3 linked regions of the Homo sapiens genome follow. The protein of the gene in region 1 interacts with the protein of each later gene in a biochemical or structural test. Each region holds a gene or a part of one and is shown in the gene's direction. Other genes may lie near its edges. The genes, in order: KSR1, RAF1 and ITCH.

Region 1 (3,652 bases):
CCAGCAGCTCCCTGTCAATATTTATCCATTCTTGCCCTGCTTTTCTAGAAACAACCGGTCATGACTCCTTTGTAGAATTCCTCAAAAGCACCGGTGCCTTTCCCAAGTGCAGGGTCAGTGTTCTGGGTCTGGGTGTGTTTTCTAAGCTGTGTGTGGGTGTTCTGCCGGCCCTGGGGCAGACCTGTGCCAGGCAGGCCTCTTTGCTGCCTGCTGAAAGGCCTGTGTCCTTGTCCCGGCTTCCTGGTCTCCAGGCGTGAGAACCAGCTAAAGCTGTCCCACGACTGGCTGTGCTATCTGGCCCCTGAGATTGTACGCGAGATGACCCCCGGGAAGGACGAGGATCAGCTGCCATTCTCCAAAGCTGCTGATGTCTATGCATTTGGGTGAGTAGGCCCCTGGTGCCCTGAGGCCAAGTGTGGCCAAAACAGAGGGCCCTGGTGGCCATTGGGGGCAGAGGGAGGCATGCTTTTAGGTGTTGAAAACCCAGGCTCTGGAGTAAAAAATCAACCTTGAGTCCTGGCTCTGCCGCTTGTTGAGTGCATGGTCTTGAGTCCTGGCTCTGCCGCTTGTTGAGTGCATGACTATATCCTTGACCTGGAATAGCTCCTCCCAACAAGGTCATTTCATGAGGACTAAATCAGGTAATTGTGTGCAGTGCTTAACACTGGCTGTCAGCCCCACCCAGCTGATCTGGGAGGATGCTCACCAGAGCTGACCAAGAACTGCTCCTCCCAGTCTGGGGGAGCTGGATATCCTGCCGGCTCTGCTACCCCACAAAGACCTGGGTGCTGACCAGTAGCAATATAATGTGAGCCCGATATAGAAGTTAAAGTTTTCTAATAGCCACATTAAAAAAGAAATGGATGAAATTAGTTTCCCCTGTTTATGTTTTATATATTATAAAACGATATATTTTATTTAACTCAATATATCCAAAATATTATTTCAACATGTAATCAATATACAAATTAATAAGATATTTTATATTCTTTTTTCCTACTAAGTCTTTAAAATCTGGTGTGTTTTCTGCCTAGAGCACCCCTCCATTCAACTGTGCACATTTCAGTCACTCAGTAGCCCCCCTGTGGCAAGAGGCTCCCACATTGGACAGTGTGGGTCTGATGGAGAAAGTCCCATCCCAAGTGAAGAAAGCCAAGGGGACGTAGAGAGGCCAAGGAAGGCTCACCACCCCGGTCACCTGTGCTGTATCTGGGTATCCTTCCCAGTGGGGTGGCCTTGGCGCCATCCTTCCTCCCTGACCTTTAACTGTATCCTTTCCTGAGCACCCATGTGTGCCAGGTGCTGGGCTTGGCAATTTAGTACTCCTCAAACAACCCTGTGACAAGAGACATTAGCCCCACTGAGGTGAAGCAGTTTTACTGGGATCTTGCAGCTAGAAGGTGGCAGAGCTGGATTTGTGCTGAGGTCAGAATGACCACCAAGGCTCCGGTCAAACCTGCGCTGTCTCAGACTTCCCACCCAACGAGAGCACAGGGCCCAGGTCCTCTAGGGCTGGGAGGAGCCTCCAGGAGCCCACTGTAGCATCCCCTGAAGCCAAGTGGGTGAGGAAGGCTGGAGAAGGGTCCTGATCCTCTGGCTGGGCTATGGCTCAAGGGCCCCTGGGCTTGAGCTGGGCACAGCGGCCCAGGAGCTCACAGACATGGCTGGGTCTCTGCAGGACTGTTTGGTATGAGCTGCAAGCAAGAGACTGGCCCTTGAAGAACCAGGCTGCAGAGGCATCCATCTGGCAGATTGGAAGCGGGGAAGGAATGAAGCGTGTCCTGACTTCTGTCAGCTTGGGGAAGGAAGTCAGTGTAAGTAGTACCTGCCCTGGGTGGAGCAGTAGGGCTGGAGGTGGGGTGGGGCATGTGGCATGGCTGCCCTTCACTCACCCACCTGAGAAATGGGGTCGGTGAGGAGCTCTGCCACCTGCACGTGTCTAGCTAGAGATGAAAATGATATGCATTGCCCGGGAATGGGGAAGGAACAGGGAGGCATAAATAAGAAAATATCTATCCTCACCCCACTGCTCACCCTTTTCATTCCTTTCAGTCTTTTTTTTTTCTTAAAGATAATGGTTTTCATTGATTTATGAGATGAAAAGAAAGTAAAGCCCCATGTTATTTACATGAAAGAAGATAATTTTTTTTAAAAAAATCACTGCTGAAAATACAAATAGTTGTGCTATGCTGTGGTATTAAATCTTTCCTCATAATGTTTTTCTTGACTATTAAGAACAAATCAAAGTTTCCACAGCAAACTTGTTTTCAAAAAACCAAGTCTTAATTATAGTGGCCGACTTCTCATTTCTACATGGTTTCTCCTTAATGGATTCTCTGTGTTTGTAAGTTTTGTCAGGCTAAATAAGAGAGAGAGGCTCTCAAAAGATGTTTATTTGGAAATAGAGCGTTGCACTGGGAATATGCATGCCATGGTGAATGGCTTGCTTATTCAGGGAGGTAAAGGAAAAAATGAAGAGGATTACACAATTATTTTGACATATTTAGTAGTTTTCCCTGGCTACAGAGATGAGTAACAAGAGTGATGTCAGTCCAAGGTTAGACAGGTTGTTTGAGGCAGATGTCCTTGTAGGAGTATTTTTGTATAAGGTTGCCATGGCCTTCGTACAAGGTTGCAGTTTTTGCAGTCTTTAGTGGTAGTTTTTGTTATCAGACATACAAGCCCAAGAAGCCTCTCTTCATGGCTTTCCCAGGCCCGATTTGTCAGAGTTTTCTTCACATTTGTGACTCTCTTTTGATTCTGACAGCTTTCAGTTTCCTTTATCACAGCACAGTGATATATAAAGAAACTCCAGGGCTTGGTGTTTTCAGTGCCATCAGTGATAGCCATGTGTCCATGAATCAGATAGGATTGGGACAGAACAGCCTTGATGTTAATAAGCAACTCCAGTCAGTATTTGGGCAGCATAACAATTGAAGTCTTCAGAGGGACCACCCAGCACTTGTCCAGGCTAAGATACAAACAGGCTGTGAGCTTCTTGTTAAGGTCATGAACATTGCTGGCAGGATCACTGTCTGTCTGCAGACTCTGTCTGCAAATTTGCAGTGATGAATTCAACCTCATCGTCCTCCAAGTTCTTAATAGATGGTAATATTTTTCTCAATTGACTGGTGGCAAGCAGCTAGGGCGTCTTCAGAAGGCTCACTCAAGATGACATTATATCTGATCTACTTTATTCCACAGTAGTATATGTCATCTTGTTGAAGTGCAAAATATTTGTACGGGGATGCCCCTCCAAAGATGACACCAAAATGCTATTTAACAACACGAACAGCAGGCTCCTCTTTGGCCAGTTGATACCATTTCATCTGGGGTGCTGGGCAAGGGCCATGGGTGATGAGCACTTCTCTGACACTCTGAGGCCCGTCCTTCTTGGCCTCCTTCTGGGCCAGGGCCAGTTAAACACCACCTTCACCTTGGTGCATCCTCGGGTGCCTTAGGAGCGTGTGGTGGTGATGCAGAATTTTTTGCTCCTTAGCTCAGCTAAAATCCAGGTTCTTGTCTCATGACCAGGAAAAATTAGGCATGCGGACACATTGAAAGGTGAGGAGAGTGGAATTCATTAAAAGAAACCTCTCAGCAAAAAAGAGGGGGTCCTCCCAACAGGCTCCCATCTCACAGATTGAATATC
Region 2 (3,652 bases), on another chromosome or scaffold:
ACAGTGATAATTCTGAAACTAGCTAGGTTTGGTGGCATTCATACTCCAGAATGAGCAGGTAGGAGTAGGACTTGTTATCTGTCAAATTGAGATTGACATACTGTGACTGTGATTCAGTAAGGAAAGGAGCAAAAGGATATGAAAACAAGAAGATTTTTTGCTTTTCGCTCTTAATAGTATTATCTACTGGGGTTGCTAGTAGACACTGCTCTGTATTTTGTTGAATATGCTGAATGAGCCTTTGACATTGAGAAGGAGCAGAAAGCACCGTTGATGCTATTTTCTTCACTTCAAACTGGAGAAAACTTAGTTGTTTGGACTTAAAATTGTTTGAATATAAAATCTTGAAAGATTCTTGTTTCTTTCAGGAGACAATATATTTCATATAGATAAAATGTTATTAAAGAATTTAAAGTTTACATTAAAAGTACATGGTCCAAACTGCCTTTTAAAAACTGTAACTAGGTATATGAAAAGTTTAAAAGTTTTGTCCTTTTTTGACAGTACTAGAGAAACCAAGGGAGTGTTATTATTAGACCATGATGAAAATGTTTTTGCTTTCATGGTCACTTACGTATTGATTTTGTGATGAGAGCTTGAGTAGCACAAATGGCACAAGCTTTTAAAATTTATCTTATTTTTGTCCCCCACCCTTTTTTTTTTTTTTTTTTTTTTTTGGAGACAAGTCTCTTTCTGTCATTAGGCTGGAGTACAGTGGCATGATCTCGGCTCACTGCAACCTCTGCCTCCCAGGTTCAAGTGATTCTCCTGCCTCAGCCTCCCGAGTAGCTCAGACTACAGGCACACACCACCACGCCCAGCTAATTTTTGTAGTTTTAGTAGAGATGAGGTTTCACCATCTTGGCCAGGATGGTCTCGATCTCTTGACCTCATGATCTGCCCACCTCGGCCTCCCAAAGTGCTGGGATTACAGGCATGAGCCACCACGCCCAGCCTTTTTTTTTATTATTATTTTTTAAAGACAGGGTCTCGCTCTGTCTCCCACAGTGGAGTGCAGTGGCATGATCACAGCTCACTGTAGCCTCGACCTCTCGGGTTCAAGTAATCCTCCTACCTCAGCCTCCTGAGTAGCTGGGACTACAAGTGTATGCCATCATGCCTAGCTAATTTTTGTATTTTTTCTAGAGACGGGGTTTCAGCATGTTGCCCAGGCTGGTCTCGAACTCCTGAGCTCAAGCAATCTGTCCGCCTTGGCCTTCCAAAGTGTTGTGGTTACAGGTGTGAGCCACCGCATCCGGCGGCACAAGCTTTTGAGTCTAACAGACATATGTCAAAATCTCAGTGTTGTCATTAACCATAACCACATCTGAGTTTTCGTTCATGCATCTGAATAAAGGGGATATTACCTTCCTTGCATTGTTCTTATGAGGCTTGCTGACATAACCTGTGAAATTACTAAGCACAAGTGCCCACCTCATGGAAAAAAGGTGCCTAATTACTCACTTTTCTGTGATTTATTCCTTCTATTTTAGTCTTTTATCTATGCATTTTCAAGATGGAATGTTTCCAGAGAAGCTGTGTGTGACATAGTTTGTGAAATGTTATACTGTAGTTTGAAAAATATTATTTTGATATAGCTAGACACAGGACCAGTATTTCCTAGAAATGCACACTGGGCCGGGCGCGGTGGCTCACGCCTGTAATCCCAGCACTTTGGGAGGCCAAGGCAGGTGAATCACCTGAGGTCAGGAGTTCGAGACCAGCCTGGCCAACATAGTGAAACCCCGTCTCTGCTAAAAATACAAAAATTGGGGGAAGGGATAGCATTAGGAGAGACACCTAATGTTAAATGACAAGTTACTGGGTGCAGCACACCAACATGGCACATGTATACCTATGTAACAAACCTGCATGTTGTGCACATGTACCCTAAAACTTAAAGTATAATTAAAAAAAAAATACGAAAATTAGCTGGGCATGGTGGTGTGTGCCTGTAATCCCAGCTACTTGGGAGGCTGAGGCAGGAGAACCCGGGAGGTGGAGGTTGCAGTGAGCCGCCATTACACCTCTGCACTCCAGCCTGGGCAACAGAGTGAGACTCCATCTTAAAAAAAAAGAAAAAGAAAAAGCACACAGGAGCCTGTATGTTTATTGGCAGGTCAGTATTATTCACATTCAATAATCATTCAAATCCAGTTATTTGGAATATTGTTCCCTTTATTCTAGGTAATGTAAAACAGTTGAGGAAAATGTGACTGGGAAAAGTTCAGTTTTAGTAGCTCTGAGTTTGCAAAAGCAAGGCATGCTGATTGTCTCTGTAAGATTACTGCAAGCCTAAAAACCAGTCTTTCCCTGCTTTTGTTTAGATTGTTTCCAAATTCCACTATTGGTGATAGTGGAGTCCCAGCACTACCTTCTTTGACTATGCGTCGTATGCGAGAGTCTGTTTCCAGGATGCCTGTTAGGTAATTTTTTACCTATAGCTTTTCTTTTAGAAAGTTATTTGGGGTGGTGGGGTTGGAAGCTTGAAGACAAAAAATAAGAGTTTCTTCGCATTCCCTCCTCTCTACGTGGAAACCCCTTGCTGCTTCTGTGGAACTTGATACTGGTGGTACAGAAAAGGTAGAAATTTCTGTTTATGGACCTGTAGGTCTTACATTCTGGAAAGTGACTTTGACTGTAGCTTCTTCTGTTATCATAGCATATTTCTTAATATGTCATTACATTTTAAAGAGCTTGAGATTCTGCTTTCCTCAGTATGTACTGAGTTCAACCTCAATGGAAAGGGTCCTAAAACTTAATACAGTGATTTGATAAAAATAAAACCCTTAACTTTGAAATGCATGTTGTGGCCGATGCATTTGCTAAAACCATGTATTTAAATAGACTAGTGTCTTTAAAAACATTTAATTAGATTTTCAGCATAAATATTGTTTCTCATGTGTCTCTGAGTTTGCATATAACTTGTCTTTCTTTACTCTGTTTTCCAGCTTTATAATCAGTTTTGTTGCGTTTATCTACTGCTCAGTGTTAACACACATGAATTTGAAACCTAAAGTAAAATCTACATCCAAAATATCTTACTTTAGGCCAGGCACGGTAGCTCACACCTGTAATCCCAGCACTTTGGGAGGCCGAGGCAGATGGACCACTTGAGGTCAGGAGTTCCAGACTAGCCTGGCCAACATGGTGAAACCCCATCTCTACTAAAAATACAAAAAACTGGGTGGGTGTGGTGATATGTGCCTTTTGGCCCAGGTACTTGGGAGGCTGAAGCAGGAGAATCTTGAACGTGGTAGGCAGTGAGCTGAGATGGCACCACTGCACTCCAGCCTTGGTGACAGAGCAAGACTCTGTCTCCAAAAAAAAATATATTATGTATACACACACACACACACACACACACACACACACATAATGTGTAATCAGATAATGTTTAATGTGAAAATACTATGGAAATATTAAACGCAGCATATCTTAGAATAAGGAATTTGCATATATCTGGATATATATTTCTGTATGGCTTTTATTTTTCTTGATAATTTGAAAAGCAAATCTGACCAAGAATTTGTAGTTACCTCTGAAGATTAGAAGAAACCAGGCCTCTGAAGCCATAAAACAGAGGATTATGTGGGAAGGCATTTTTTTCAAGACAATAGAACAATTTCCCTTAGAAAAGCTGGCCTTTTTC
Region 3 (3,652 bases), on another chromosome or scaffold:
TATACACGTTTATCTCTGTATACTATCTAGACATGTGCATGTGTAGGATTAAGAGGTGGGTAATGAAAAAGAAGACAACATGGCCAGGTGCAGTGGCTCATGCCTGTAATTCCAGCACTTTGTGGGGCGAAGGTGGGAGGATCACTTGAACCCAAGAGTTTGGGACCAGCCTGGACAACATGGCGAGACCCTGACTCCACACAAAATAAAAAAAAATCAGCTGGTGTGGTGGCGTGTACCTGTAATCCTAGCTGATTGGGAGGGTGACATGGGAGGATCACTTGAGCCAGGAGGTTGAGGCTGCAGTAAGCCATGATCACGCCACTGCACTCCAGCCTGGGTGACAGAGTGAGACCCTGTCTCGGAAAAAAAAAAAAAAAAAGACAACATGGTTCAGTGCAGAAAGAATAGAGGACTTGGAAAGAAAAGATCTGGGTTCCGATTTGATTTTGCCACTGACAAGCTGTGTGACTTTCGGCGAGTTATTTAATCTTGCCAGACCTCAGTTTATACATCTGTAAAATAGGTAAGTATTGATTCCTGTCTCCATCCCTGGCATTGTTGTGTGGATCAAATAAAATAATACCTATTAAATCTTTAGAAAAGGAAATGAATTCATGACTTAAAATGTTATCTTGGCCAGGCACGGTGGCTCATACCTGTAATCCCAGCACTTTGTTTGGGAGGCCAAGGTGGGCGGATCACTTGAGGTCAGGAGTTTGAAACCAGTCTGGTCAACATGGTGAAACTCCATCTCTACTAAGAATACAAAAATTAGCAGGGTGTGATGTCATGTGCCTGTATTCCCAGTTACTTGGGTGGCTGAGGCAGGAGAATCATTTGAACCCAGGAGGTGGACACTGCAGTAAGCCAAGATCGTGCCACTATACTCCAGCCTGGGCAACAGAGTGAGAGTCTGTCTCAAAAAAAAAAAAAAGAAAAGAAATGTTATCTAGATCCACAAGGTGAGAGAAGTTGAGAGTAGTATTGTGAAGGAAAACATGAGGACAAGACAGATCACTTTAAAAGGTCAGGAGAGAAGGAAGACTACTGGGTAAGAAAAAAAAAGTAGAACATAAAGTTAAGCAGTAAGAGAATAGGGAGTGAATGAAGTTGAGCAGGTGAATTGTTAGATAAGAAAGCTGAGGCTGGGCGCGGTGGCTCACGCCTGTAATTCCAGCACTTTGGGAGGCCGAGGCGGGTGGATCACGAGGTCAGGAGATCGAGACCATCCTGGCTAACAAGGTGAAACCCCGTCTCTACTAAAAGTACAAAAAATTAGCCGGGTGTGGTGGCGGGCGCCTGTAGTCCCAGCTACTCAGGAGGCTGAGGCAGGAGAATGGTGTGAACCTGGGAGGCAGAGCTTGCAGTGAGCCGAGATCACACCACTGCACTCCAGCCTGGGCAACAGAGCCAGACTCCGTCTCAAAAAAAAAAAAAAAAAAACTGAATAGGAAGATACTGGTAAAATAGAACTAAAATATGATCCAGCATTGCCACTTTTGGGTATATATCCAAAGGAAATAAAATCACTTCTTCTTTTTTTTTTTTTTTTTTTTTTTGAGATGGAGCCTTCCCCAGGCTAGAGTGCAATGGCACGATCTTGGCTCACTGCAGCTTCTGCCCCCTGGGTTCAAGTGATTCTCTTGTCTCAGCCTCCTGAGTAGCTGGGACTCGGGAGGCCAGGCGTGCACCCACCACACCTGGCTAATTTTGTATTTTCAGTAGAGACGGGGTTTCACCACATTGGCCAGGCTGCTCTTGAACTCCTGACCTCAGGTGATCTGCCCGCCTCTGCCTCCCAAAGTGCTGGGATTATAGGCGTGAGCCACTGAGCCCGGTCCTGTTCTTTTTTATAATCAAGAGAAAGGAAGGAGATGGTGGAATGATTTGTGATAGCTACTATAAAGCAATTTAAAAAATATTTAAAAGTATTATTAAAGTATTTAAAATATCTTTAAAATATTTCTCAGCATATCCATTTCATCTCAAGCTCACAAAGCAGTTCTTTGTGGAAAGGTATTTGAGCCAACATTCAGGAAACCTGCGTTCTACCATTGGTATTACTGGTCACTTAAATTCTGTGATCTTGGGCAGCTCACTTAAATCTCCCTGGGCCTGGTTTCCTCACTTATCTATTGAATGTTTTGAATATGATTTCTCAGGTTCTTTCCAGCTCACTCTATTATATTCTGTGCTTTATGTGCTAACTCACTGATTTTTCATGGCTTTGTTGACATCACAATATATGACTGATATCAGAAATATCTTATAATAAGGCTTCGGCCGGCCGCGGTGGCTCATCCCTGTAATCCTAGCACTTTGGGAGGCTGAGGCGGGCGGATCACGAGGTCAGAAGATCGAGACCATCCTGACTAACATGGTGAAACCCCGTCTCTACTAAAAATACAAAAATTAGCTGGGCGTGGTGGCGGGCGCCTGTAGTCCCAGCTACTCGGGAGGCTGAGGCAGGAGAATGGTGTGAACCTGGGAGGCGGAGCTTGCAGTGAGCCGAGTTCACGCCACTGCACTCCAGCCTGGGCGACAGAGTGACAGAGGGATACTTTGTCTCAAAAAAAAAAAAAAAAGGCTTCATAATGTCTGATGCTTTATAAATGAGAAACCATGTTATTTTAAGTTCTACTTTTTTTTTTTTTTGAGAGGGAATCTAACTCTGTCACCCAGGCTGGAGTGCAGTGGCGCAATCTCAGCTCACTGCAACCTCCGCCTCTCGGGTTCAAGCAATTCTCCTGCCTCAGCCTCCTGAGTAGCTGGGATTACAGGCACCCGCCACCATGCCTGGCTAATTTTTTGTATTTTTAGTAGAGATGGGGTTTCACCGTGCTAGCCAGGATGGTCTCGATCTCCTGACCTCGTGATCTGCCTGCCTCAGCCTCTCAATGTGCTGGGATTACAGGCATGAGCCACCGTACCCGGCCTTTTAAGTTCTACTTTAAACATTGGCACTGAGAGACCTGTAGGAAACGTAAGTATAGAAAGTTTAAGTTTGTAATATTTGACAAGGATCTGTTGAGCTGCTATTGTGCTAGGTTCCAAGGGGTACTCAAATATAAAACTCCTGGTTTAAGGATTTTGTCAGGAAAACAGACTTCCTTGCCAGTGATTGATTATTATAAAAAGGAAGTTGGTAAATGTTACAAGAGTTTCATTGCATTGCAATTTAAGAAATTAAGTTCAGATTTTTTGGTTCCTTTAACATGATTGAATGTATTCCTTTTTTTTTTTTTTTTGAGACGGAGTTTTTCTCTTGTTGCCGAGGCTGGAGTGCAATGGTGCAATCTCAGCTTACTGCAGCCTCCACCCACTGGGTTCAAGCGATTCTCCTGCCTGAGTCTCCCAAGTAGCTGGGATTATAGGCATGTGCCACCACGCCCAGCTAATTTTGTATTTTTACTAGAGATAGGGTTTCACTGTGTTGGTGAGGCTGATCTTGAACTCCTGACCTCAAATAATCCACCTGCCTCGACCTCCCAAAGTTCTGGATTACAGGCATAAGCCACTGCACCTGGCCAAATGTATTTTTTTTTTTTTTTTGAGGCAGAGTCTTGTTCTCGCCCAGGCTGGAGTGCAGTGGTGTAATCTTGGCTCACTGCAACCTCCGTTTCCTGGGTTCAAGCCATTCTCCTGCCTC

What was found.
Region 2: of the proteins of KSR1 (region 1) and RAF1, one has a biochemical effect on the other in vitro, tested with the Homo sapiens proteins (one study listed by BioGRID).
Region 3: of the proteins of KSR1 (region 1) and ITCH, one has a biochemical effect on the other in vitro, tested with the Homo sapiens proteins (one study listed by BioGRID).

What each region holds. Positions count from the first base shown.
Region 1 is NC_000017.11:27,609,816-27,613,467, forward strand, and holds part of KSR1 (kinase suppressor of Ras 1), read left to right. Parts: intron 1-251; coding exon 252-383; intron 384-1,034; exon of another isoform or gene 1,035-1,562; intron 1,563-1,678; coding exon 1,679-1,814; intron 1,815-3,652.
Region 2 is NC_000003.12:12,604,975-12,608,626, reverse strand, and holds part of RAF1 (RAF proto-oncogene serine/threonine-protein kinase), read left to right. Parts: intron 1-2,327; coding exon 2,328-2,426; intron 2,427-3,652. UniProt on the Homo sapiens protein: Serine/threonine-protein kinase that acts as a regulatory link between the membrane-associated Ras GTPases and the MAPK/ERK cascade, and this critical regulatory link functions as a switch determining cell fate decisions including proliferation, differentiation, apoptosis, survival and oncogenic transformation.
Region 3 is NC_000020.11:34,369,741-34,373,392, forward strand, and holds part of ITCH (E3 ubiquitin-protein ligase Itchy homolog), read left to right. Parts: intron 1-2,961; exon of another isoform or gene 2,962-2,986; intron 2,987-3,652. UniProt on the Homo sapiens protein: Acts as an Acts as an E3 ubiquitin-protein ligase which accepts ubiquitin from an E2 ubiquitin-conjugating enzyme in the form of a thioester and then directly transfers the ubiquitin to targeted substrates.